Linked DNA regions of Homo sapiens: region 2 is linked to region 1. The links come from fine-mapping of genetic effects on gene expression. Tissue or cell type: whole blood. Region 1 holds a variant in brackets; the other region holds the start of a gene. All regions are shown on one strand. Distances are from middle to middle.

Region 1 (2,683 bases):
TACAATATTTGGTTTAATTATCATAACAGATATATATATACACACACACACACAGTGAGGGATGTGAAAAACCTTAAAACACTTCAAAATGCACACCGATAATAAAACACATTGCCAAGTTGTAAGTAAAGCAGTTAATTATGACCATCGTCATCCCCAGGAACCAAGAGAAGCTTCTCAAGGGTCAGATTATTCCAGCTACCTCTTGGATGCCCCCGAGGCCTCTCTACAAACTGTAAGTGCTCATTACTATGTTCTGTAAAAAGGCCTGTCTATGAGACTGCCAAAAAGAAACTTTCCAGCAAAGTCTCTAAATTGTAAAGTACTATCATGTAACTTCTGGGGGAATCTATGCCCCTCTTTCTGACAGCTGTCATGCTCAAGGGTGGGCATGGGCAGCCATGTATTTACCATGTGACACTGCCCCGTGCCACAATCGATGAAGCAAAAGTGGACATCTGCCCAAATTCACCTCCAGAAGTTTGCTATTGGGGCAGAAAGTGCAGCAGTTTTGTAGGATATGTCACTTGGGAGGTGAGGAGCCACTATCTTCTGCAACATGAACAAAGGAGCAGAGAGAGGCCAGCAGAGGGAGAATAACAAGGAAGATGCAAAGACCAGAATCCCACTTCTCAAAGAGAGGCCCACAGTGAAGCTGCCTCAGGGCCATGGGCAACCTGAAGCTACCTCCAGGCCCTCACCAGCTCAATAGCACACTGATGCCAGTATGCTGAGACAGTCACACTCCCTTATCATAAACTGCCCATTTCAAGTTCTAGTAGTTTGCGTGGGTGTTACTTCCTTCCAAAGAGCCTTGACTAGCAGTTACGCTAGTCTAAGCTAGTTATTATGACTCTAAATAAGACACTAAGTTCCCTTGGGCAACTTCTGAGATCCTCACTTTCCACTCCCCAGGGATTCTCATCTCATCACTGAAGGAGCTGAACAAGGATGTTTTTCAATGTTAAATTCTATGCATGACCTCAATACACCAAACTGATGGTGGCCGAGCTGTCGGCTGGAGCAGAGACAGGGATCTGGCTCTGGCCCTCCACAGAATGCAGTGCTTCCAGGGAACTCTGCTGAAAGCCCTGACTTGGATGCTCTCTAGGGATCCTGGCTTAGCCTTGGCAGATAATATTCCCAATGAAGAGCAGCTTTACTTGAGCGGCTCCACGTGCTTGCCCAAAGAAGGCAACAGACAGAGGATAAGGAGTGTTACTCAAGTCTGAGGACCAGGAAGCTGGAGAAGATGAGACTCTCTCACCACCCATGGCCTGAACCCACGGCTCCCTGAGGAAAAGCAAATGCTTCCAGTCCTGGATGGTGGCGCCAGAGGGAGGCCGAGGTAAGCTATGATACAGAGATCAGTGGCCAAAGGGCAGCATCATCCCAGGGAACACCCCCAACACCTCTGATTCAGCAGCCCCGATTAGATGGAATAAACTGCTTTTCACTTCGGAAGTTTGGCTGCAACATAGTGGTAAGGGAGGGAAAAAAAGGAAGTGAACAAGGCGGCCGGCGGAAGTGGAGAGGCTCCAGCCCCAGCCCAGGCCCCCAAGGCCCATCTGGCCTTCCTTCTGGGG[T/C]TAACCATGATCCTTATTTGACCACAAATGGGAGCGGGGGAAAAAAGAAAAAGGAAAAAACTCCACAGAGATGTAAATGGAGGACATCAATACCTAAAGTAAAGAAGGGAAGGGGGTCTAGGAAAGAATGGCTCTTAAAAGCAAACTCCAGAGTTCAGACATTGTATGGGGCCTCATTAAATGGCATTAATGACTCCCACGAAGTTAGGGCTTAGAATATATCTGCATAGCTGTGTTATGTGATCTCTCAATATTATTTTGGACTGAAGAATATCTTGTTCAGAACGATGGGCTTTTGTAAGAAGCTCCTTCTTACTTGACAACTTGAAATATTGTTAGACCAGCACACCATTCATAAGCTTTTAAAAAGAACTAATCAGAACTCAGGCAGCTTTGGCCAGGAATGGTGGCTCATGCCTGTAAACCCAGCACTTTGGGAGGCCAAGGAGGATGGATCACCTCAGGTCAGGAGTTCAAGACCAGCCTGAGGCCGAGCACCGTGGCTCACGCCTGTAATCCCAGCACTTTGGAATGCTGAGGCAGGTGGGTCATCTGAGGTCAGGAGTTTGAGACCAGTCTGGCCAACATGGTGAAATCCCATCTCTACTAAAAATACAAAAATTAGCCAGGCATGGTGGCGTGTGTCTGTAATCCCAGCTACTTGGAAGGCTGAAGCAGGAGAATCGCCTGAACCCATGAGGCGGAGGTTGCAGTGAGCCAAGATCACGCCACCACACTCTAGCCTGGGCGACAGAGCAAGACTCCTTTCAAAAAAAAAAAGAAGACCAACCAGCCGGGCCAACATGGTGAAACCCCGTCTCTACTAAACATTTTTTAAAAATTAGCCAGGCGTGGTGGCAGGCGCCTGTAATCCCAGCTACTTGGGAGGCTGAGGCAGGAGAATTGCTTGAACCTGGGAGGTGAAGGTTGCAGTGAGCCGTGATTACACCACTGCATTCCAGCCTGGGTGACACAGTGAGACTCTGTCTCAAAAAAAAAAAAAAGAAACAGAACTCTGGCAGTTTTAAGAAGAATTGCAGAATAAGCTGCTTCAAGACACACTCTGGCAGAAAAATATTAACCACAATGATTATCAA
Region 2 (2,683 bases), 200 kb before region 1:
GGAGTGTAGCTGTTAATTGCGAGGCTTGCCTCAAGGTGGAAAACAGTATCGGTTTCCACTGCCACCCCAGAGAAGGCAAGTTCCGCGGCTGGCGGTGCTGGGGACACGGTCCCTCCCAGGCCCATCTCTTGCCACCCAGAGAGCTGCTCGGAGGCCGCCTACAGGTGCAATCCCGGCACTGCGGCCGGGGCGTCGGGCCGGGGAGGGCGTCCAAGCCCACCAGCATCTCCGCCGGCCCTTCCCAAAGCCTGAACAGGGCCCCGGCGTGCCCGCCGCCTTCTACCCCCGGTTTCCCCGCGCCTCTGCCCCGGCGCGGTTTGGATAGGAAGCTGGGAGCCCTCCCAGGCTCCGCAGACTCGGATTTGGGAGGGGGTGGGACGCGGCCGAGGCTTCCCCTCGAATCTGCGGCAAGCCTGGCTCCAGGAAAGTTTTTCAAAGTTCCCAGCAGCGTCTGCCCAGGTCGCCTCCGCGGGGCGAGCAGACGGCGGCAAGCGCGCCAGCCTCGCCGCCGCCTCTGCCGCCAGCAGAGCGCTCTGGGCGGCTCGCTCGCGGGAAGCGGGCCGAACTCCCGGCGGGCAGGCAGGCCCTCCTCCCGGGGCGAAAGCCGCAGCTGACGCAGGCGGTTCGGAAGGCGGAAGCTGCCCCGCTCCGACCGCTCAGTCAGCGCCGCGGCGCCTACACCTGGGGCCCCGACGCGCGGGCAAAGGCGCACGGCCCGGGGCGCCCGAGGGGGCGGTCCCCGCTGGGGGCCTCCAGGCGTCCCTGAGCAACGATCCCTTCCAAGTACCTCCCCGCACTCTCCCTTCCCTCCTGGCCCGAAGCTCCCGAGGGCGGGGGTTGGTGTGGGGCCCTGGTTCTTCTACGCCGCCCTGAGCATCCCGCTGCCCCCAACCCCTTCCAAGTTCCTCCTCGCACTACCCCCTCCCCAGCAACGTGAAGGGGAGGGGCGTGCCCAGGGTGAGCACGCCCTCTCATGAATATTAATAAGCGCGCATGCGCCCTGCCCGGCGTGCTGGGTAGAGGTGGCCAGCCCCGGCCGCTGCTGCCAGACGGGCTCTCCGGGTCCTTCTCCGAGAGCCGGGCGGGCACGCGTCATTGTGTTACCTGCGGCCGGCCCGCGAGCTAGGCTGGTTTTTTTTTTTCTCCCCTCCCTCCCCCCTTTTTCCATGCAGCTGATCTAAAAGGGAATAAAAGGCTGCGCATAATCATAATAATAAAAGAAGGGGAGCGCGAGAGAAGGAAAGAAAGCCGGGAGGTGGAAGAGGAGGGGGAGCGTCTCAAAGAAGCGATCAGAATAATAAAAGGAGGCCGGGCTCTTTGCCTTCTGGAACGGGCCGCTCTTGAAAGGGCTTTTGAAAAGTGGTGTTGTTTTCCAGTCGTGCATGCTCCAATCGGCGGAGTATATTAGAGCCGGGACGCGGCGGCCGCAGGGGCAGCGGCGACGGCAGCACCGGCGGCAGCACCAGCGCGAACAGCAGCGGCGGCGTCCCGAGTGCCCGCGGCGCGCGGCGCAGCGATGCGTTCCCCACGGACGCGCGGCCGGTCCGGGCGCCCCCTAAGCCTCCTGCTCGCCCTGCTCTGTGCCCTGCGAGCCAAGGTAGGAGCCCTTCTCCGGGCCTCCCTCCCAGCCGTCCTCTCCCTCCCCTCGCGGCGCCCTGGGCGGTTGAGCCCCGCGAGCAGGCTCGGCAGCCCTCGAGCGCCCGACTCCTCGCCCCTGCGCCCGAGCGGCTGCACCTGGGCTGAGCGCGCCAACTCCCCCACGGGAGCCCCTGCCTCCTGAGGGTGACCCCTCCAGGCCGGACAGGGGCGCGTTCGCTCCGCTGTTGCCCCCCGGGAAGTCGTCGGATTTCTTCCGCACTCGTGCATTTTTTTTTTTTTTTGCCCCGGAATCATGTTGAGTCCTTGAACGTAGTTTCGCAAAATTATTTTCACTCGGCGAGGAGGGCTCGTCGGGGCGGGGAGTGGGAGGGAGTCGCCACCTCTATACTCGAAGAAAACAGCTTTCTCCCGCGCTGACCTACCTCCTTCCCTCGCCGGCAGGTGTGTGGGGCCTCGGGTCAGTTCGAGTTGGAGATCCTGTCCATGCAGAACGTGAACGGGGAGCTGCAGAACGGGAACTGCTGCGGCGGCGCCCGGAACCCGGGAGACCGCAAGTGCACCCGCGACGAGTGTGACACATACTTCAAAGTGTGCCTCAAGGAGTATCAGTCCCGCGTCACGGCCGGGGGGCCCTGCAGCTTCGGCTCAGGGTCCACGCCTGTCATCGGGGGCAACACCTTCAACCTCAAGGCCAGCCGCGGCAACGACCGCAACCGCATCGTGCTGCCTTTCAGTTTCGCCTGGCCGGTGAGTGACTACTCGGGAAGGAGGCCGGGCGGAGCCTCACACCCGCGCCTGGCCGAGCCCTGTTATCCCTTGCGAGAGGGATTTAAAGGGCTTTGGCTTGAAACTAGGCGCTAACTGGGGAAATCTCTAGGGGTGGCGGGTGAGGGAGCCGGGACACTATAGTTAGATCTCGGCTGGGGTAGTCGAGGTGGGTCCCATTCCTGCTGCTATTTGCTTAGTGCACAAAAGTGGGGATCCCAGAGGGTTTATGGGACCAGGCTCCTAGGAAGGCCGGTGTAAACTTGCAACTTGAAGTTCCCAGAGTAACTCTCCCGGCCCCAAGCCAAGAGATCGTTGT

What was found. PIP is the estimated chance that this variant, and not a neighbour inherited with it, causes the effect.
Region 2: JAG1 starts here. The variant in region 1 is fine-mapped to the expression of JAG1 in whole blood (INTERVAL, PIP above 0.99). The same link has a PIP of 0.9 or more in blood mononuclear cells.

The regions. Positions count from the first base shown.
Region 1 is chr20:10,473,514-10,476,196 of GRCh38, reverse strand. The region is part of intron 2 of SLX4IP (SLX4 interacting protein); the gene reads right to left. Among named protein-coding and RNA genes, the nearest start is that of SLX4IP, 40 kb to the right of the region's middle. The variant T/C (reference allele first, on the strand shown) is at 1,587.
Region 2 is chr20:10,672,364-10,675,046 of GRCh38, reverse strand. JAG1 (jagged canonical Notch ligand 1) reads left to right here and starts at 1,048. Exons shown (of 26, transcript NM_000214.3): 1 at 1,048-1,597; 2 at 2,041-2,346. The coding sequence starts at 1,517. RefSeq lists a silencer at 426-825.